4 separate regions of the Homo sapiens genome follow, and regions 1, 2 and 3 are each linked to region 4. The links come from fine-mapping of genetic effects on gene expression. A gene starts in region 4. Each other region holds a variant in brackets. All regions are shown on one strand. Distances are from middle to middle. Region 1 overlaps LOC124903166 (a long non-coding RNA gene). Region 2 overlaps ENOX1 (ecto-NOX disulfide-thiol exchanger 1). Region 3 overlaps ENOX1 (ecto-NOX disulfide-thiol exchanger 1). Region 4 holds the start of ENOX1 (ecto-NOX disulfide-thiol exchanger 1).

Evidence for each region.
Region 1: its variant is fine-mapped to the expression of ENOX1 in atrial appendage (GTEx, PIP above 0.99). The same link has a PIP of 0.9 or more in left ventricle.
Region 2: its variant is fine-mapped to the expression of ENOX1 in tibial nerve (GTEx, PIP above 0.99).
Region 3: its variant is fine-mapped to the expression of ENOX1 in pancreas (GTEx, PIP above 0.99).

Annotation. Positions count from the first base shown.
Region 1 is chr13:43,812,364-43,818,043 of GRCh38, reverse strand. It overlaps LOC124903166 (a long non-coding RNA gene), which reads right to left. Exons shown (of 3, transcript XR_007063773.1): 2 at 5,402-5,462; 3 at 3,228-3,779. Among named protein-coding and RNA genes, the nearest start is that of ENOX1, 28 kb to the right of the region's middle. The variant A/C (reference allele first, on the strand shown) is at 2,701.
Region 2 is chr13:43,358,262-43,363,941 of GRCh38, reverse strand. It overlaps ENOX1 (ecto-NOX disulfide-thiol exchanger 1), which reads left to right. Exons shown (of 17, transcript NM_001347969.2): 6 at 2,490-2,663; 7 at 3,885-4,091. Among named protein-coding and RNA genes, the nearest start is that of ENOX1-AS2, 88 kb to the left of the region's middle. RefSeq lists an enhancer at 3,846-4,431. The variant G/A (reference allele first, on the strand shown) is at 2,673.
Region 3 is chr13:43,336,259-43,341,938 of GRCh38, reverse strand. All of the region lies in intron 9 of ENOX1 (ecto-NOX disulfide-thiol exchanger 1), which reads left to right. Among named protein-coding and RNA genes, the nearest start is that of ENOX1-AS2, 110 kb to the left of the region's middle. The variant G/A (reference allele first, on the strand shown) is at 3,053.
Region 4 is chr13:43,783,973-43,789,652 of GRCh38, reverse strand. It overlaps ENOX1 (ecto-NOX disulfide-thiol exchanger 1), which reads left to right and starts at 2,681. Exons shown (of 17, transcript NM_001347969.2): 1 at 2,681-3,001. RefSeq lists a silencer at 5,506-5,680.

The DNA.
Region 1 (5,680 bases), 28 kb before region 4:
CCTGAAAGTGACGGGGAGAATGGAACCAAGTTGGAAAACACTCTGCAGGATATTATCCAGGAGAACTTCCCCAATCAAGCAAGGCAGGCCAACATTCAAATTCAGAAAATACAGAGAACGCCACAAAGATACTCCTCGAGAAGAGCAACTCCAAGACACATAATTGTCAGTTTCACCAAAGTTGAAATGAAGGAAAAAAAGTTAGTTGCCTTTTTACATCATTTACTATGTCCTTTGGTGCACGGAATTTTGACATTTTGATGTAGTTCAACTATTTATCTATTTTTCATTGCCTGTGATTTTACATCATATCTAAGAAATCTTTGCTAAATCCAATGTCATGAAGCTTTCCACCATGTTTTTTCTTCTAGTAATTTTATTGTTTTAGCTCTTATGTTTAGATTTTTGATACTTTTTTTTTCAGTCAGAGTCTGGCTCTATCACCCAGGCTGGAGTGCAGTGGCACAATCTCGGCTCACTGCAACTTCTGCCTCCTGGGTTCAAGTGATTCTCCTGCCTCAGCCTCCCAAGTAGCTGGGATTACAGGCATGTGCCACCATGCCTGGCTAATTTTTGTATTTTTAGTGGAGACAGGGTTTCACCATGTTGGCCAGGCTGGTCTCGAACTCCTGACTTCAGGTGATCCACCCACCTTGGCCTCCCAAAGTACTAGAGTTACAGGTGTGAGCCACCATGCCCAGCCCAATATTTGATACATTTTGAGTTGATTTTTGTATGTGGTATAAAAGCAGGGGCCAACTTCATTCTTTTGCAAGTAGATACCCAGTTTTCCCAGCACCATCTGTGGAAGGCTGTTTCTTCCTCATTGTATGGTCTTGGTCCCCTTGTCAAAAATGTTTTGACCATCTATGTGAGAGCTTGTTTCTTGGCATTCTATTCTATCCTGTAGGTCAATGTGGCTGTCTTCATGCCAGAATAATCTTTCGTTTGTGACAGAAGTAGCAATTATTTTCCCCAGCTTGTCATTTGTCTTTTTACTTTTTTATATTACTTTTGCCATGCAAAAGTTGTTTTATTTTTATGTAGTTGAACTGATCAATTGTTTTACTGTTTTTGTATTTTGTGTCATAGTTAGGAAAGTTTTTCTCATACTCAGCTTATTAAGAAATATGTCAATGTTTCCTTCTAGTACATGAATAACACCATGTCAATTTATCTAATAATTGTTATCTTCAATTCTACTACAAAGTGTCCATATAAAAAGAGAAATTGACTCCTTTTAGTGAATCCATAATAAGAAACCAAATTGAAAAACACTGCAAAAAGACTGATGGCCAAGCTCGAACGTAATGTTTTGTTTATAATAATGATGGCAGTGATGATAATGACAGCTATTGTCTGGTGACTTCATAATCAGCACAAGGCACTGTAGGAGATCTTTGCATATACTAAGTACAGAAAAAGAAAAGCACAGCTTTTAAGAGCTTTAACTTCGGATTTACATAAACTTGAGTTCAAATATGTGTTTTATTAGATTTTATTCCAAACTCTCTCACTTACTGGTTGTGTGACTTTGGGCGAGTTTCTTTTGTTCATTAAATCTCATTTTAAAAATCTGTAAAATGGAAATAATAATAGGATTACTTCATGGAGTTGTAAGATTAAATAAGATAATGCATATAAAGCCCTCAGTGATTAGCATTATGTATTTAATACACATTAGCCACTGTTAATCACCAGTTTAGAAATGAAATTACTAAAGTGATGAGAAATTAAATAAAGTCATTTAATTAGTAAGTGTCAGAACTGGAATTCAAACCCAAGCTTTAATCTGTTTTCACTCCAAAGTTCTTACCCCTCTTCTACATCAGTAGAAAGTATTTTTTATATGAATACTGATTTTTAGAAAAGCCTTAGAATAGAGCATACTGGAATGTTAAGGAAACAGCTTTTTTTAAAAAAAAAAATTAGAAACAATGGCTTTATTTATTTATTTATTTATTTAATTTTTCTGAGACAGAGTCTTGCTCTCTCACCCAGGCTGGAGTGCAGTGGCGCAGTCTTGGCTCACTGCAACCTCCTCCTGCTGGGTTCAAGCAATTCTCCTTCCTTAGACTCCTCAGTAGCTGGGATTACCGGCATGTGCCACCACACCCAGTTAATTTTTGTATTTTTAGTAGAGAGGGGGTTTCACCATGTTTGTCAGGCTGATCTCGAACTCCTGACCTCAGGCAATCCGCCTGCCTCGGCCTTCCAAAGTGCTGGGATTACAGGTGTGAGCCACCACGCCTGGCCAGAAACAATGGTATTTACAAAAGAAACTTAGTGTACAAAAACATAGTGCATTACCCCATGATCATTGCCTCTTTGTCCACAATCAAATGGGATGTATTCAAAATTTTTGAGCTGAGAAGTTAGAGAAGAAAAGGACTGAGAACGTGTGGCTAGATTGGGTAATTAAAATCCTATGGCTGATTGTTAAAGCAGAAACCACAGTATGTGTGGTTAAGGAGCAAGTGTATACCAGCAGCATCGGGGCTGGTGGAGGCTGGATCAGGCTAGCCAAGATTAGACAAGCTTTCTGGGGGCCGAACAGGAACCAGGAGAAGCCCTAGAAGGGAGAGAGAGGACTGATAGCAGGGAGCATTTATTCCTCATGACTCATGTTTCCATTAAGGGAAGAAAATGTCAAATCTACTCCCCAGGAATGGAAAATTATGAGAGGAATGCTTTCAGCTT[A/C]TCTCTGATTTTCCTCTTTTCCTAGTAGATGACTGATTTATCTTTTGCAAAGTTGGAAGAACACTTAACCCCTGACTCTCCATAAGCCAGCCTGCAAACCAAGTGCAGAGAGAGTGCATTCTGGGCTGCTGTTGTAGGAGAAAATTCAACTCAGCAAGGCTTTTGACCAAACATCTAAAGACATGTTCCCCAGTTGGCTTTATCAATAATGAAGTTAACATTTTGAGGTTGATTCTTCCAAACATGAGAGGGGGAGAAAGTAGTGTGCAAGGGGTCAACAGGCAGAAGCTGAAGCAGGTGAATATCCAGGTGGCATCAGTATGCTTAAGTAACAGTAATGCAGGCAGAATCCCATCCCAAGGTGAAGCATTTCCACAGACACTCTAAACTGTGAATCTAACTGCACTAGTTGCTTTCTTGTGACTAGATTTAGCCTAGAACCTAAGTGCAAGCTCACCCCCTTACAGGTGGAATTTGAGGCCTTAGGTGTGAGAAATAGAAGGATAATATGCCTCAAACCAAAAGAGTAGAAAAAGGGAAATTACATGTTTATTGCACTTTTGAGAAATGAGATAGTAAATGAAAGGCTAGAAATACAATAATTTAAGAGGGGGATTTTCTAGAGCTTGGGCAATAGGACTGTTGCAGAGCTCATGAAAAGGGTGACACTGAAGATGCAAGAAAATAGAAGGTAATTCATGCAGTAGTCCTGGAAAGCCAGGAGGGGACAGGATCCATACAGAGAGGAAGGCATAGCCTTGGGAAGAAAGAGCATTCCTGAGACAGGATGAGAAAAATAAGAGAACGATCAAAGGCAAAAGAAAATTTTAAAGTGAGGAGGAAGGAAATCAAAGGAGCTCTTGTTTAGATAGAGGGTGAGGATAACAGCTAAGGGTAAAAGCACAGAGCTAGTGCAATTGAGAATGAAATGATGTGAACAGACATAAAGCTACTGGGAAAAAAGGGATTGACATTAATGATCTAAGTAATGCAGATCAGAGTAAATCCATGGTGAGCCCACTGAGCTCAGCTTTGCCATGGTTGTCCAGCAATGTTCTGTTGTCCAGGATTAGGAGGCACTGCAAAAGAATGGTTGGCAATTGAATTAATACATTCAATATGTCAAATGCATTTTAATTTTTCTTTTTTTCTTCTTTCCTCCCTCCCTCTCTCCTTCCCTCCCTCATGCTTTCCTTCCTTTCTTCCTTTATTTGATTTTACTTGTAACTGACTTGAAACTCAAACTTTTCTTTTTTAATGAGTTTGGATTTTTACCACAGGGTCATCATGTTAAACAGTTATTCTCTCAATATGGTAGTAGAGTTGTAAACATAGAAGTTATAAAAGGTAACATACCTGGGAAGTAGCTTGCTTACTTTGTTGGCTTATTTTAAAACCAAATTCAACATCTCAGGTTACAAGTGCAGTATTAATATTTATTGAACACCTAAGAAGTGCTAGACATTTTCTAGGGCACCATACAAACATGTAACTTGATTTAAGAAAGTATTCCAATTGGTATGATTCTGGACCATTTATTCAACAAGTGTACATCTACTAAGGGAATCTCTGCAACATAATGTGCAAGGCATGGTCCTCTCCTTCCTGCCACTAATACCTGAAGCAGATGAAACAGTTCAGCAGCACTGAAAGAGTTAATATAATGAAATACCAAATATGTTTCACAAATTTTCAAGGAGTGAACAAGATGAGCTATCTTTGAGACGATGGGCAGGATATGGATGAAATAGAAAGGAAAGGCTGGGATATTTCAAACCATAGCCTTTGCGTGCTGGAACAACCACGAAACTGAGCACGGGGGTCTAACTATCATGGAGAAGGAATAAAAGAGAATCTTTGAGTCCAAGCTGTATGGAGACTCAGAGGCTGGGTGGGAGTCGGGAAGCAGGGAAACATGTCTCTGAGGATCTACACCATTGGTTCATGTGCTACTCCCTGCGTTGGTTTAGACATGAAATCATAACTATGGCAGGATTCTTTATAAAGTGTCCTATGAATATTATTATTTATAATCATTCCATCATTATAATGCTTTTCAGAACATGAAGTCTTTAAGAATCAGTGTTGTCTGTAATCATTAAAGTAAGTCCCTCTCCAAAGCAATCCTTAGCTGACCAACCCATTAGTCCAAGTTAAACTGGAAACTACTGACTCTGGAGTAAGCCATAAGGCCTTTAAGAGACCTGCAATTATTTCTTTTTTAGCCTGTGAATATGCTAAATAAATATGAAGAAGTGGCAATTTAATTTTTAAAATTTTTCTCTTAAAGGCAGACACTAAGTTGAGATGTTTCTATTGTTTATAGGTATAAATGCTACTAATGGGTTGATGCCATTTTAACATGCCTCTTGAAAGTGAAAAGAAATGGCCTGGTAATTTTTTGTTTTGACAAGTGCTTGAACAAAACCTATCATAATATATCTTATAACCCTCAAAGCTATGGCAGGTCATATGTAAGACCAGACTGACCCTGAATCAGAAAGCCCCCGGACAGTTGGGTGGGTTGTAAGGGATCTCAGGAGACGACTTAGTCCAGATCTACTCACCCCTCCCAAATCCCCTGCTCTTCACACAAAGAGGCTGAATAGTAGCCTGGTCCTGGCTGCCACACTCCTGACCTACACCTCCCAACATACCTAACACTTTGACAGATTCACTCATTCATATAACAAGAACGTACCTGTGGAGAAGAAATTCAGATCCACAGTGAAAAGACAGACATAGTTTCGGCAGTCATGGAGCTTCCAGTTGAGCATGGAAGGCAGATATGTAAGAGCTATTAGGCTAATTATTTAATTATAAATATGGTGAGTTCTCTGCTTCCCCTCTTACACAGCCCACATAAAGCACAGGGAAGAAGGCAAGCATATGCTGTATAAAATATGCTGTGATTCATTTAAGTTACATTCATGTTCTGTGTCCAACAGCAAAACCCAATCAGCTCAAGATTGACTAAGTT
Region 2 (5,680 bases), 430 kb after region 4:
AACCTCATAGTCTCCTCATACTGATGTCTCAGAAAAAAGCAAAGCAACTCTTGCTGTATATTAAAATACGTTGTACAAGAGTGGTATCTTCTGTCCCCATTTCTGGACATATATTTATTTACTTAGCCTTCAGAAAGAAAACAGAAGTCTGTTAACAACTAAAGAGAATGCAAGCACTGGGCTTCTCTTCTCATTTGTGGGAAACATCTGCTGATTATAATTCACAGGGCTCTCATTTCAGGGTTTGCAGTCCTGAGTGGTTTCAGCCTTAAATCATCCTGTGTTGGCAAATAATAGCGAGGGCCAGGCCAGGAAAAAAACAGATGAAGCCGATGTACGGAATGAGATTAAATAAAAGCACAAGCATGCCAATATTCCCATTGCCAATATTTCTTTTTCTAATATATTCACCTTGGAGGCCAATATGTTATTTTAATGATGATGATGTTGAAAACCATTCTGTTCTGGAACTTCTTTAGAATTGATCGGCAGGACCCATCTTGATTTTTTTAAGGGTAAAGTACATTTTAAGAAGTAGTGGCATGTATTAGATGAGTAATCATGTTGGGTCATTCTAGATGGAAACTTTGAAATAGTCACATTTAATACATGTTTAAATACTGAGGCAAAGACCTGGGCCCTCATTCTGACTCTGCCATCTGTTTGATTTGGAATGTTAGAAGTTTTACTTAAGTACTTTAAGCCTTACTTTCTTTTCTGTAAAATGGAAATCATACTTGTGAAACTTTCTGATGATTGACAGAATAAACAGAGTCATCTCTGTCACTTATAAAACTTTAAGTCTTTTGTGTGTCAGTTTGTACTGAGCAACATCAGCATGGAATCCTGGAGTCTTGGAATTCTAGCACTCCAAGAGATAATCCAGTCAAACAGTACCATATTACAGATGAAGAAACTGAGAGCCATAATTGTAGAGGAAGTACCTAGAATGTCAGGGTGACTACTTTGAAAGAAAATGCTTATTTGTCATTTATATTTAGGGTTCTTTTCTTTTAAAAAAAAATCCTCCTTTTACTGAAGTCACACTGATACACTATGAAATTAAATGGAGTTTTTAATAAATGGGACAGCAGTCCTCTTGGGGTTATAGATCAGAATCACATTGTTTATTCTGTTCAGCCCAGAGGAGGAGTGGAAATGTCCAAAGTAGCTGGCGGAATCTGTAAACCTTTTCCCAGAAAGGAAACGCTTTTGCTAGACCTTCTGTATTCTCTGGAGCTTCTTAGTAAACAAAGCGTGTGGTTATTCTTACATCTGCTTCTGGGCTCCTCCAGCCTTTCAGCACAGGTAAGCGAAGAGTGAGGCCATGCGGAGGCCTAAGGCACAGGCTGTACAGGAGAACTGTACAAAGGGGTTGTCGGGGGCAGGGGTGGCGGGCAGGAAGGAAGACTGGAAGTGATGTAAGATGAGGAGGGAGAAGAAGATAGGATGGTATGAGACAAGAAGGAAGTTTCATCCTTGCAGAGTAGAGGAGGGCACCATGATCTATCCTGGCCTGTCTATCTGGGAACATTTTCACGCCACCCATGAGACTTTTCTGCCAACAGGGAAACCCTCATGAACGGGATCCCCTTGTGGCTACTCAGTATAGTATTTTCATAGCCCCTGCTGTTAGAAAGGTCTTACTTATTAGTGTCTGTATGCCACCTTTGAAATCACTTGCTTCATTATCACACTAAAAAAAAAAAAAGCTGGAAAACCCATTTGTTTTGCACACTTTCTATTTTCAAGTGTGTGTGTGTGTGTGTGTGTGTGTGTGTGTGTAATACAGGGCATAAAGATTTCAAAAGGGTGGGTCAATTCTTTGTTGACTAAATTATAGGAAGAAAGTGCAATTATCCAATAGAAGCCAGAAATGTATATAGCTAATTTTATGCCTGCATGTATCTAACCCAGCCATAGTAATTGTAATCACTCTTTGTTTTGCTTTTTTTTTTTTTTTTATTCCAGGGGAAATAGGTTAGGTGGGACCTGAATACATCATTATAAAGTATGCACATATAAATTGAACTTTCCTAAATCTAGGTCACTTGGGTAAGAAGGCTCTTTTGATGAAACCACGTTGACAATTAGATTCACAGAGCACTTCAATGTTAAATGATATTCTTCCCATATTCTGGGTCATAAGGTGGTATAAACAATACACCAACGTTAAGAAATAGAAAATTGCATTCACAGTAATAGTGAAGCTTCATGGTGCATGCTTTTACATTTTAATATGCTGTGTTCTTTCTGCCATGTTAATATTTTAAGTAATATAATTTCCTTTTCATGTAGTTTAATGTTCATCTTTTACTTTTTTTCTCTTTACCCTTCTGGCATAGCTTTCTATAATATTATATCTTATGCCAGGAGAAATTCCTGAAAAATAGAAAGTATAAAGTCAAATAATCCACAGGAAAATGGCAAAAACAACAACAAAAATGGATTTAATCTCCAGTCAAAATGTTATCTTGTATACTTTACAGACTCAATCTGTGTCCCAGGCTTTGATCCAAGCCTCAACATGATGACTGGAATCACCCCCATTAACCCAATGATACCAGGCCTTGGACTGGTACCTCCCCCACCACCAACAGAAGTGGCTGTTGTCAAAGAAATAATCCACTGCAAAAGCTGTACTCTTTTTCCTCAAAATCCAAGTAAGTAAC[G/A]CCTATGAGAAATATTTGCTCATTTTAAATGTTTTTCTTTTTAAATTTTAAAATGGCATTGCAGTCATTTTCAGATGTGACTCACACGTAAATGCACAGAGTGGGGATCCGTTCTACAGAAGGCCTTTTGTCTCTAGGTTACAATAAATATACAGGGATGTGGCCACGTGTCTGTCCAGAAGCTGAATCCACACTATAAAGCCAGTATGTGGGATTTAGGGATGTGTATCCAGCGTTAAGACTTTTTGCATGCAGTGAAGCCTAGTGTTTGCCGGAGAACACAGTGTGAAATATGTGAGCATTTCCATCCATCTTCACAAATGTGGGTGAAAAACTCTGAAATATGTTTTGCTAGATGGAAAATGGAATTAATTTGACAGTTAGCAATTTGGGGGCTGGGGAGAGGGAAGCCTGCATCTCAGAGTTTCTGGACCAAATTGTATTTGCTTGAAGGAAACATACATTTGATGAAGTAAATGGGCCAGAATTTTATTTTTTTAATTTTGCCTCAGATACTAAGTTTATGGGCTAAAAGAGCTAGGACTTTTTTTTTTTTTTGTCATTCATATTAATCAGTGTTGCCTTTTTTAAGTGGACTTTTCAGGAGATTGCTTTAGTAATCTACATATAAACTAGGTAAAATATTGTGAGAGTGTACATTGTATCTTTTTATACAGCCTTCCCAAAATTTAATAGTTTGCTCATTTAAATGTGAATAATAACAAAGTGGTTTTTTTCAGGCCCGGTGTTTCACAGCCAAGTAAGTATTGTGCGTGCTTTTGTAGGTTATGCTTCCCGTATTCTGTTTTGCCGCTCCTTTATCTGGAAACAAGACAAAGCAGATAACACGCTGAGGTTTTTCATCATGTTGTCATTTCGTCATGTTTTGTACTTTGGGAAGTTTTTTCCCTCCCTTTTCTGGGCTTCTGTAGTATAAAGGAGAAATGAAATTATGCAAACATTTGCTTTATCTTTGTTCATGGACAAGCATATAGCCACTCTGTGTAGCAATGAACACAGAAAGTAAAGGTTGGGAGCAGGAGGGGAGAGGAACTTAGAAACAAGACAGCCTGGGATCAATGTTAAGTTGGCATAGAAATTTACCGTCACTCAGTCTGGAGAAAGTTACTCTGCAAGCTTTAGTTTTGCCAGGAGAACCAGAGAAAGCAAATAAATGAAAGATAAAACTTTCTGTTTTGTTGTGATTATTAGATCTTCCACCTCCTTCCACAAGAGAACGACCTCCTGGGTGTAAGACCGTGTTTGTCGGAGGATTACCAGAAAATGCTACTGAGGAAATTATTCAAGAAGTCTTTGAACAGTGCGGTGATATTACAGCAATTCGGAAAAGCAAGAAGAATTTTTGTCACATTCGCTTTGCAGAGGAATTCATGGTTGATAAAGCCATTTACCTTTCTGGTACTTTGCATTACATAAGGAGTTTTCTAGGCATTTTGTTATGTTTTGTGATGTTAATATGAGCTTATTCCCTTTGGCCTTCATGCAAAATAAAGTCTTCATAGTTTGGGGCTGGAAAAGGAGGAATTCTGCCTTCTTCCTTGGCTGCCAGAAGCTCTGCGCTAAGCCTGTGAAGGTACTTCACTGCAGGAGCAATTTCCCACCATCCAGTCTTTAGGAATTCCATCGAGTTTCTAATTAATGTTCTCAAGTGCTTATTAGATGAGAAGCAATATTATGAGTACTAAGGACCATTATTCTTACTGGATGTAATCCTTAGGAGGAGTAAAGTACTCTCTCAGAATAATTTCAGGTTTTTGGAAGTGGATTCACTTTCTGGACACCAAGGTACCAAAGCAAGGTCAGTTCCTTGCAGGAAAGTAGCTTAGGGGCCCTAGGAGAAGGCCCAGTATCATTGCCTCGTTGGTGGTTCATTAAGCCTTGTCCTCTGGTGTCAATTTTTATAGGCGATTTTTACAGATACTGAGATTAGGCCTAGTGCTGCCTTCCCATCTGTGGGTATTGGGCCAAGTGAATGGAGTCTGTCCGCAAGGCCTTTGCCAAACCCAAGAATTAGGGGCTGGCTTTGGAAGGACACATTCTCAGACTGAACTCACTGCCCTTCCCTCACACTCCCCACCTCCATTTTTCAGTCTGTCCCTCTGCATTTCACCTCCCTATTCCTGAGGCAAAGCTGATGGGGGAATGTGGGAAAACAGTAGCGGGTGGGGGTGGGGAGGGGCAGGGGGACCTATCTGAGCATTCCTGCCAGGTTTTACTTAATTTCTGCAGTCCACCTCTATTGCCACGAAATTCTGTGCAAACTCCAGAAGACTTGAGGTTATTCCAATACTGCAGAGACTTTCCTAAGGTAGACAGTGATATGGAGAACTTTAAAACCCCTTATTTCAGTAAAACCTTACAAAGTAGAAAATAAAAACTAAAAGCAATACAAAATGGAGAAGGAAGACAAAGCCTAGAATGAAGACATTTCATAACACACAATCCGCTGTTAGACAACGGGGGTTCTGGTGAGTTTGTGGCACTGGGTTTCACGGCCTAGAGCCTGCCTCCATTTTCTCATCTATAAAATAAAGATAGTAACAGCATGACCTCGTAGGACTGTGAGGAGGAATAAATCAAATAATGGATATTAAGTGCTTAGCAGGGCACCTGCAACATAGAAACCATTCAGGAAATGGTTGTTTTTAACACAAATATCCTGATGATGATAAAGAAGGACGGATTTTTCTATCTCAAGAACCCTATCCTGGGGACCTGGCTTCTAATCACAGCTGTACCAAGAAAACTGCAGTCATCCCTCAGTACACTTGGAGGATTGGTTCCAGGACCCCCCGCCCCCGCCCCATGTATATCCTGCAGAACCCTCATGTATATGAAAAGTCAGCCCTCCAAATATGTGGGTTTCACATCCCTCGAATGCTGTGTTTTGGATACACATTTGGTTGGAAAAAAATCCACCTATAAGTGGACCTGCACAGATTAAACCCATGCTCACAGGTCAACTGTATTCTTTACCCTACTTGATT
Region 3 (5,680 bases), 450 kb after region 4:
ATAGCAAGAAAGCAAACTTGCCCAAAAATCCATCCCCAGCCAACTTCCATGTAGGTTTCATTAGGCAGAATTATTATACCTGGCCATGCCTAACTACAAAGAATGCGAGAAATATAATTTTTGACTGGGCCTGCTGCTCTCCAGAGTAAAATTGGAGTTCTCATAATAAGGCAGGAGTGGAGAATGGCTACTAGGAAGAATTTTGCAGTTTTTGCCATACAGAGTGCTTCCCTTTCTACTTCTACTCTAGTTTGATTTATTTTCACATTCCATCTGATACAAATCAGGTCATGTCTTCCCCAGTAAACCGTTTGAGTATCTCCCCATTGCATTTAGAGAATATTCACTGTCCCTAGCTGACAGAGCTCTCTGTGCTCACTTCTTTAGCTTCAGTTATCCTCAGACTCACCATGCATCATTTCCACTGGCCCCTTTCCCCCTGAGCCCATCAAAACCACCTTCCACCACTCGGCTTTATACGTTCTGTTCCTTCTGCCTGGGGTGCCCTTTCCCATACTCTGTGTGCTTGACTTCTTCTTATCCTATAGGTCTTGGATCAAGAGCCACCTCTTCAGAGAGGTTTTTCTGGTCCACCCTCTTCTAGTAGATTTGCCATCACTGCATCTCTCTCTTTTTTTTTTTTGAGATGGAGTCTCACTCTGTCACCCAGGCTGGAGTACAGTGGTGCAATCTCGGCTCACTGCAACCTCTGCCTCCGGGTTCAAATGATTCTCCTGCCTCAGCCTCCCGAGTAGCTGGGACTACAGGCGCCCGCCACCACGCCCATCTGATTTTTTGTATTTTTAGTAGAGACAGGGTTTCACCATGTTAGCCAGGATGGTCTCGATCTCCTGACCTCGTGATCTGCCCGCCTCGGCCTCCCAAAGTGCTGGGATTACAGGTGTAAGCCACTGTGCCCAGCCCACTGAATCTTTATGAAGGTCCTTTGTAACACTTATCCAAATGAGTAGTGATTTCATGATATGTCTGCTTTTAGTTATTATAGCAGGCATCACAAAGGAAGAGACATCAATATATATCAAGTCATCAATATATATCAAGCCTTATAACATAGAAATATGCAAGAAATATTTGGTGGATGAGTGAGTGAATGAATGAGTAGATCAGAAGACAGGCAGGAGGGAACCCTGAAACAGTGAGTTCAGAAATTTCTGGTGACCTCGTTGAGTAGTTTGGCATTGATATTAGCATCATCTGCAGGAAACAAGGTTTCAACTTGCATGCATAATGAAGCAAATCAGAGAAAAAGCTCAATAGCTGTACTTTTTATTGGAAATTGCCACACTTTACCAAATTCTTGGTCAGAGGCTAGGAAATATTAGGAGAGTTGGGGTGAAAGAATCATCAGAAATTTACGTTGTAGTATCCCCAATTGTAACCATCCAACAACCTCTGTATTTACCATCTGCCTGTTACTATTTGGGAGTCCCCCTTAGCCCTGTAATTTGATTCTGAGAAGTATTTCAGCAGTTGGCAGATATCAACCGAGATTGTGAAAATCCTACAGTGCTGGCCACGGTGTACACATCCCAGCAATGGAGACTCTGAGGAGCCTTCCTGTGAGTCTTTGACAGCCAAGATCTTTCAGGATGACTCGAAGATGGGGGATACCTTAAATGTGAGCCTGGGCTAGAATTAAGCCTGTGAGGCAGAACCAGAAGATTGCATATCTCATTGAGCAACCTCAGAACTTTCCATTCTCTTCTATGTGCTTTTACAAAAAGGGCTGCAAAAAGGAACCCAGTCTGTGAAACTATTAGCAGTAACCTGACTAACATGGTAGGTACATACACATCTCCTCATCCTTTAATCCAAATGCCTCTCCTTTCCTGTCCCGAATTTCCCTCTCTCTAGTGGAGCTATGTTTGTGTCTCAACTGTACTTCTTGCTTTCCACAGCTCTGTTCAGTGTGGTAAGATGTGTTTGATGTCAGGACTTTGGGGATGCTTGTAAAACAATAACTGCTAAAGTCCTCAGTGACTGACACACTTGCTGCATTTTCCAAAAGCAGAACCAGTCACACCCCATTTGTCTGCATTAATATTCCTGGCAAATACCACAGGAATCACATTTTGGCTTCTTCCCTTAGAATGAGATTAGAATTGTTAAGCATGAGTATTCAGGAATTGCACCTCAGCTTTCCTTCTCCCAGGTGGCTGGAAATCTCCTGGTTATTCCATAGCAGCCCCAACTGCTCCCTCTCCACATAAAGGATCTCCTTAGTGTCAGTGCCGAAAGATCTCCCCAGTGTCAATGCCGTCCTTCATGGCATTCCATGGTAGCCTGTCCACTAAACAGCCAAGCATGTTGGGAAATTGTTGTGAGGTGGTTTGGAAGCAGGTGTATTGGCAAACTGGCTAACTAGTGGAGCAGGCCGCAAACAAGCCAAACACGGAGGGCTCACTCCGCAGCTTCTAGGGAAGATCAGGTACATTGCAGAATTCAAAGCATGGTAAAAGCATGTGGGTCCCCTTATGGATTTGGCTGGAAATAACCAATTGGTTGAATAGGACAAGGGAAACTTCAGATGTGATCCATGAGCTGGATTAGATGCACCTATCTCCTTTCTGTGCTTGTGTACTTGTTCTTGCTTTCATTTGGAAAGGATCCATAGGCTCAAATGTTTGGCCTAGATTGCTCTCCAGCCACCGTTCCTGAAGTTCAGTGCTTAACAAAAGTTGTTTGAAAAACGTCACAAGTCATTCATAATAACATAAAGAAAAAGTTGTGATTTATTCAAAGGTCTCCATCAAAGTCCATCAGTTACCCTCTAGCTTTGTTGGTGTTTAGTTCTGCCCGTATTTATGAAAGTTCTAACCTTTTTTATATCTCTGGTCTTCACCCCAGGACCAGCTATTAAATATCAAACAGTCATTGTTTTTAGCAAAGTCTTAGCTTAAAGTGTCAGGGGGCTGTAATTAAACCCAACCCGAGGCCGGGCACGGTGGCTCACGCCTGTAATCCCAGCACTTTGGGAGGCCAAGGCGGGCGGATCACGAGGTCAGGAGATCGAGACCATCCTGGCTAACAC[G/A]GTGAAACCCCGTCTCTACTAAAAATACAAAAAATTAGCCGGGGGCAGTGGCGGGCGCCTGTAGTCCCAGATACTCGGGAGGCTGAGGCAGGAGAATGGCGTGAACCTGGGAGACAGAGCTTGCAGTGAGCCGAGATGGCGCCACTGCACTCCAGCCTGGGTGACAGAGCGAGACTCCATCTCAAAAAAAAAAAAAAAAAAAAAAAAAAACCCAACCTGAATTTTGGGGAGTATGGCATCCATTCACTTCTGTGTAGGGCGATTTTTCTCTTCTGACCATGGATGTCCAGTTATGAAAAATGTTAGATGAGGACATCGTCTATCCTGCTGTGGCACCTGGGGCTTTCTCCTCCCTTCTGGGCCAGCTGGATAGACCTCATTTCCTAGATATAGAAGAAAGAGAAAAAAAAATTCGGAACAGGTAAATCATCTTTGTCATGTCACCTTATCCCGATAGCATCCTAGTCTCATCTTTATGTCATTTCTTAACCCGTCCATTTGCCAGAAACTTCCCCAGGTTTTCCAACTCGGAGACGTTGGAGTTTTTATCTTTGCTTTTTAAAAATGCATACTTCACAGAAACTCCCCATAGGCCTGCCCACTTTCAGTTTCTCAGTTATGAACAAAGCTTGTCATTTCAAAGCTCGTACAGGAGCTGTTTATAAAGTTCAGGAAGCATGGACTACCACATTCAGTTATTAATATGCATGCCAAGATGATAAGTTTTGCATGCCTTTTAACAATTACAACACACACATATCTAATAAAAATTTAAACACTCCATGATATCCCCATTTTGCTACTTTCCCAACATGCTTCCTGGTAAGAGAGAAGGGAACAAACTGGAGAAAAGGCAAATGGGAAAGCCAGCAGCAGTGCAGAAGGGTTGATTAACATTAATTTAAGAATATGTGCCATACATATAATGAGCATGGATAAAAAGCAGAAATTATAGAATGTTAGAGCTAAGAGGGATCTTAAAGGGTTGGGCCAAACCCTGTCATTTTACAGAGGAGGAAACTGAGTCTCAGAGAGCAGACGTGAGAGGCTTTGGTCATTTAGTAGTTTATGGGCAGTTTAGAACCAAGACTCTTGGCTCCTTGTACAGTTTGCTTTCTAAGTGTGTGTGTGTGTATGTGTGTGTGTGTAAAATGAAAATTAAGAATATTATAAATGTAAAGGTACAGCTTATAGGTAGAGTTGAAGAGGTGTGCTGTCATCACACTGAGTATAAATGCTGCTATCTGGCTAAAAAATGAAGTATTTGCTTCTGGCACTACCCTCTTTCCTACCTCCACACATTTGCTTGTGCTGTTTCCTTTGCCTGAACTATTTCCCCTCCTCCAAGTGCCAAAATTGAAGTCCACTTCTATCACATTTCCTCCATGAAACCTTGTTTATCCATTATAACCCATAATCATCTCCCTTTCACCTACCTTCTGCAGCGCTTGTTAATACTATCTACTTGAGGACTTACTTATTTTCTAATTATTTTATGTGCATCAAGTTTATTGGTTTGTTTGCTTGATTTTCCCTCTAGCAAGATTTTAGGCTAAATAGAGACATGAGCCACTTACTGTTCTCTTTTCTACCTCACTGTGCCACTTCTGGACCTGGCATAATTCTTGTAAGCACATAGAAGACCTAAGAAAAAAAATATTGGTTGTTGACCAATCACAGGTGGAAAGGAACGTGGTGCTGAAAATTGGGCTAGAACCTAATATTGCAGAACACAGCCTAAGTGTTTTTTAGTAAACCGTGATCTCAATGATCTTAGCTCTAATATGCCATTCTCTTTAAAGTGGAGCATACGGCATATACTTTAGTTGAGAATTTTACAGTAGGAGTATTAGAGTACCGTTATCAATATCATTTCAACCTGGAGATTGGAAAGGTTAGAACTGTCATGCAACTTTATACATTTGTGATAGGTAATGGCATCAGCCTCATCTTAGGTCTTAAAAGCTGCAAATGGTGGAAAGACTTTTGACAAGGCAGAGAGATCTGGTTCTAATCCAAGTTTGACCACTAATTAGCCTTGTGACTTTGGGAAAGTCTTTTAAGCAACTTCAGTCTCCTTTTTCTCATCTCTGTAATAAAAGGGTTTAACCAGTAATCCCTTAAAGTTCCTTTCCACCCTTAAGATTCCACAGTTCTTATGTCAACCATGTGGATCCTTTATCGTCTCTGGATATCTAAATACAGGTATCTTCCAGGACCCAACCATGAGGTTCAAAGCTCCTAAAGTGATCATAGAACAGGCAATCAGATATTACTCTGTGCAAATGTTCTGCCTATACCTTGCTGTGAAGGTTACTCCTCCTGGGCTACACTGTGAATTTTAAGCCACATTTCAACCCTGAGGTTATGTGCATTGCATTCTGCAGGTGCTGAAGATTGGTCAGAATTATTGTCAAAGACAGCTGCGCAGGGCACTGACAGTTCTCCACTGTCACGCCCTCATCTATCTTCTTGGGTAAAATTGTAAAAGCCTCAAGTGTCTGAATGATTAAATTCATTCCACAAATATTTATCAAGTGTCAAGTTGTGTGCTAAGTGCTAGAGTGAAATGTGAGGGGTTTCTGATCTCTGTGTACTGTGATCCCCCTTTTAGGCAGATTGGTGTCC
Region 4 (5,680 bases):
CTTCAATCTTTCTTCCTACGACGTGAGTTAGATTAATAAAAACTCAGGGAAGGCAAGTGCGTTCTTCTTTGGCAGATCTGGTTTCTAGGCAGATGAAAGACCTTCAGAGAACAATTTCATCCTGTGCTTTGGGTGAGACAGACGACTGAGAGACAGGAGGCAGAGAGAGGGTCAGAGAGACTTTGAGGCTGCTTCTTCAGTCCAGCATGTCAAAGTGCCATATTTTCCGGTATTAGTTTCTGAGCCCAACAAAACCCTAAAAGCAACTTTCTAAGGAAAATGAAGCTTTAAAATTGTTTTGGAAAATTCTGACTCATACCCATTCTATAGGTTGGCTGTCAAGGGTCCATTTTCGGTATCAGAGTTTTTCTGCTTCTTTTGCAAGTTTTAGAGCTTCCTTTCAAGTGAGAAATTTAAGTAAGCTTTCAACCTAATAAAAAAGCTCCAATATCACAACAAATGTCTTCTAAGAAGATTGTCAATTGAGTGAAGGTAGATAAATCAGTTAAAGGGACCCCCACTAAAGAACACACGGTACCCAAATAAATCCATTTTAATTTTCACTTTATTTCAGTTATATTTCACAGCTGTGGTATCATGAGTGGAGAGAGAAGCAGCTCATAGGCGGGCCTGAGTTCAAAGGAATTGAAATTTAGCATGAAATGCAAAATTGAAGACTTCTGCTTCTAAGACGATGATTGTAGAAATACCGAGGTCGAAGGATGTGGACTTGGTGCTACACCAGACAGCAGAATTAGCAGTCTGGGGTGACCCTGCATGTATTGGTCAGTGTCCATGAACACTACTCTTTACAGGAGAAAAATGCGTACCTGATAAGCTATTAGAAATGTGTATTTCTGGCCTGGAGCGGTGGCTCATGCCTGTAATCCCAGCACTTTGGGAGGCCGAGGCAGGCGGATCACTTGAGGTCAGGAGTTGGAGACCAGTCTGGAAAACATGGTGAAACTGTGTCTCTACTAAAAACTAAAAACTAAAAAAAAAAAAAAAAAAAAAAAAAAAAAAAAATTAGCCGAGCGTGGTGGCCGGCGCCTGTAATCCTAGCTACTAGGAGGCTGAGGCAGGAGAATTCGCTTGAACCCGGGAGGCAGAGGTTGCAGTGAGCCGAGATCGCGCCACTGCACTCCAGCCTGGGTGACAGAGCGAGGTTCCGTCTCAAAAAACAAAAAACAAAAGTGTATTTCTCTTAAAACTGTTTTCCCCATCCTTCTGCTCTAGAAGGGACAGTATAAACTGCTGGTGAACACTGACTTTCACATTTTGAGAGGTTAGGTTCTGAGCTTTGGCCCCCTCACACCCAGGGCATCCCACTGGGGTCCCTGCAGAGTGCTTCTACATGCATCCTTTGTTAAGGGTGCACAATGGATAAGTATTATTTTCTTTCTTTGCATTGGGGTTCTGACCGCCAGGGGGAAAAATAGCCACACACAAGGAAATGGCATAAGTTAAAATCAGGCAAGCCTAGTGGGGTGGTAATGACTTTCCCAGCATCCAAGTCTTTGCCTTCAGGTTACGTGAAGCTAGAAAACAATGTCATTCATTCAACATTTACAGGGAACTCACAAAGTACAGAGTACTATGCTAAGCACTGGAAGGCATGCAAAAGTGTGCAAAACACAATCCCTGCATTGAGGATTCCTGCCAGAAAGGGTATTTCAAGTATTACCCAGACCTTACGACCCTTGAAGAAATGCTTGTGTGAATAAAATCCCACTCAGAATTTAAAATAAGCAAGGAAAAGTATACTACTAAGACAATATATCTGTTAAGAGGCAGAGAATGTAAATGTGCTTTAAACATTTATTTCTGAAGTATTACAATGTAGTTGGGATGGAGGATCGGGGGATGTGGGTGTGTGTGGGGAGGTGGTGGGAGCGGTTCTTGGACGAGCCTGACTCTAAGGAGGCACTGCTTAGATGCCTGCACAGCTAAGTTGAATCCTAACAAAGAGGAGGCCGGCATTCTTACCTGGGAAGTGGGTAACTTTGAGAAAAAGTAGCCTCCAAGGAGGAAAAAAAGGCAACATGTCACCTGGGGTTAGGATCCCCTCACCCTTACCAACCTGAATGCTGACCGCACCCCGGCCGAGCCACTCTGGGCCGCACACCCCGCATCATCTGCCCAGGCCACGCGGCCCAATTCCACCGTCTACCCCAAGCCCACAATCCTGTAACACGCCCGCTCCAGCCTGGAGTCGGCCACGTGCGCCCGGGTTCTTCTCTTGGCCCTTCAGCGGGCCCGGCCCCTCCAAGGTCGCCGTAGCAACCGTGCGGTCCCTCTCTCGGTTCCCCCGCTCCCAGTAGAGCAGTCCCGACCGCGGCGGCGGTGGCGGGAGCGAGCGGCCTCGGCCCCTCCCGAGAGGGGGCAGCGCGACCGTGGGCTGCGGGCGCCGCCTCTGCTGCATCGGTGGCTGCGCGCTCCGCTCGGCTCTGCCGGGCTGGGATCCGGAGCCCTAGCGCGCCTCGCTGACTTCCCCTCCTCCTCTGCTGCCGCCCCGTGGGCAGCTTCTCCAAGCGAGACACGCGTTCGATCCTCCTTCCCCGCGTTTACGGATTTCCGGGGTCGTAGAATTTTGCCTCGGTCCCTACGAGCATCTCTCGGCCTCTCTCCCCCTCCCCTCGCGACTCCCCCACCCCGTGGGCGCGCGCGCACCCATACACTCACACTCGCAGGCGCGCGTGCGCACGCCCGCGCGCCTCCAGCCGCGGAGTCTCCAGCGCCCCTCAGCAGATCCCCGCTCTCCCGGGCGCCGCTACTCACACAGGCTTCCAGCCGCCACGGGGCGTCCTCTGTCTGCTGCAGCGGCGGCGGCAGCAGAGGGAACGGCGACTGCAGCCCGGCCGCGTCTCCCAGCTCCGTGCCCGGGACAGAGTCCGGGAGAAGCAAAGGAGGAGGAGGACGCCGAGGCTAGGAGGAGCCGCGCCGCGCCCGGCGCCCCACTCCGCGCAGCGGGTTGCCTCCGCTCCCCATACGGCGGCCCCAGGTAAGCAGCTCCGGGGCCCGCAGCCTCCCTGGGGCGTCCGGGCTCCGAGCCGGGGTCCTCTGGTCTCACCCCCGCCACGGCACCTGGATCTAGACTGAGAGGGGAGTGGGCGAGGGGGGAGGGGAGTGGAGCTAGAGGTGAGGCTGGTGAGGAGGGGTGCGTGGACGCGTGGGGGCTTCGGTGCAGCCCCCACGCCCTTCCCCGCCGTGCCCCGTCTCAAGCTCCCTCACTTTTACGCGCCCGGGGGTGCCCAGCGCCCCAGACAGCTGTTCCCCGCTCTCCCCTCCGCCCGCCAGCCAGTGTCAGCTCCGGGCTCCGCGCCCGCCGCGCGCCAGTCACCTCCCCTGCACCTTGGACAGCGCACCCCGCACCCGTCTCCCCCTGCGGGCGTCGCCCCCGGGACCCGTTCCTGCCCACACAGTGTTCCCGCTGCCCTCTTCTTTCAGGTTTTCACCCTCCCGCTCTGCATCCCTTTTCCTCCAGCCTTGGCGGACTCCGCTCTGCTGCGGGCCGGAAACTTTCCTCCCCGCCTAGTCTGCGCTGGGTACTGTTGTTATTCGTGACTGTCCCCTCTCGCGGGGAGCTCGGACACCTTGGACAGGTCTTCGTCGGCGGGAGCGCGCCCTGCCTGGCCCAACGCGAGGTAAAGGAGGCACTGGGGCAGCCGGACTCGGCCGCTGCCAGGGTGCAGAGCCCGCGCCTCGGCCGCTGGACGCCGGCCGCCTCCCCGCCTCTCCGGACCCGACACGTGCGAGCCTCCCACGGACGCGGCCCCTCCCAGACCACCCCACGTCCTCCCCCTGCACGGCCACAGCCACCCCATAGGTTGGACACCCGGGGCTCGCGGGTCCTGATTGGCTGAAGGCGTAACCCCGCCCTCTTTCGGAAGGGGGGTGGTTCTGGAGTGTTGTGGTTGTCATCCCGCGGCGAGCACATGGGGAAAGTGGGGTCGACAGGTGGGCAAGCCCAGCTCTGTGGAATCTCTGCGTCTCACTGTATAGCCACTGAGCCACGCTTCTTCACCCAGATACACTCCTGCTTCTCTCCTTTTCTCTCCCTCAATCTTTCACTGCTGTAACATTACATGAAAAAAACTGGCTTTGTAATCCCAATTTTGTTAAGATTGCATTTGTTTGGTGGTAGCAATTTTTAAAAGCAGACCCAGGAGAATGCAGGAAATACGTGCGTATGGAAAGGTTCCTGGCCAACTGGGCTGCAGATTTGAGTCTGGTAGTTTGGAGAAAGCAATGAAGCGTGCTTAAGGGATCTGAAGAGGGTGGAGAAAGTGGGAAGGAAATTGATTCCTGGAGGAGAGACGCAGGTGAGCGAGCTTGGAAAGCTGAGCTGGTGGGCCCGCTCGAGAGGTGGGTGCGTGCTGTTGGAGACGGCTCTGTCAAGCAAAGTGGTAATATTGGCTGGTACTTAGTTTATGGTTAACACACTCTGCTTTTGTTTTACTAGCGTTGCCACTTTGATAGAGACTTTATATTAATAATGTCTATTCATGTAATGGATATTGCTCATTCCAGTTTCTTGTAATATACAGATTTGAAAGTGATAATGAGTTTGAAAAAGTGAAAGCCCTCTTGGAGGAGATGCGTTAAACAGTTAAAGTGCTTTCGGAATATTGTGAGGGAAGACGGATGAGCATTGCATAAAATGCATATTGTTCTGGCATTATTTAGAGCCTTTGAAGAAATATATGTGTACGTATAAATGATACTGATTTCTCTTCATTTCAAAGCGTGATTGCCTCTAGCATTTTCCAGCTTTAATTCCTTCAGGCTGTTTTGATGTTGTGTCTGTACATCTAAGAATATTGTAATTCTTATCTTTAGAAGCCTTGTCAATGTGAAACAAACAGCAACTGATGCAAGTTAATGTTGACAACTTTATATTGAGTACACTGTGTGTTATTTTATTTGTAAGCTAGTGAAATATGCAAGAGTAACATAGCATGACTGTTGTTCCCCAGGGACCCATATCAAAACAAAGTGGGGAATCACATGAGGCTATTCCATGGAGAACAATTCAATTATTTTTAAGATGAATAAAATTTAAGATTCTTGGTTGTAAACAGCAACACTCTTTGAATTATCTTTGTACACATTGGTAGCATATGATAGTAAATCAACATATTAAACGTATTACATGATTCTAAAGTAGATGGTAAAGGCTTTCCATTATTATCATTTTTATATAAGTAGACAGGATTGCTTTTCTGACTGGAGGACCTCCTATTCAAGAAACAGGATTTGATATATGTGACAAATTGGAAATTATTGCTATTGTTAAGAAAATAATTCTGTGTTTTTATTTCTCTAGTTCATACCTTGATTTCCCTAAGGGATTTAGTTTCAAGTTGTGGGCCTATTAAATTTAGATGGGTTTGTATGTAGGAGAATGTATATAATCACATATGCATACATGCAAAATATTTGTATGTCTATCAGCACACAGTTGTATATTTATACACGTAATTTTAGGGTACATTCAGTGTATTTATTCGTATATATGTTATTGTCATCCTTAGAATTTTTTCTCATTTCTTTTTGTCCAAAAGGTGGCCCTGTTTTAAACTGTAGAAAGCATTATCACCAGTAGAATTGGCCAATAGATCATGGAAACAGACAATAGTATTTTGTTGCCTGGCAACCACCTACTGTGAATGAAAAACAA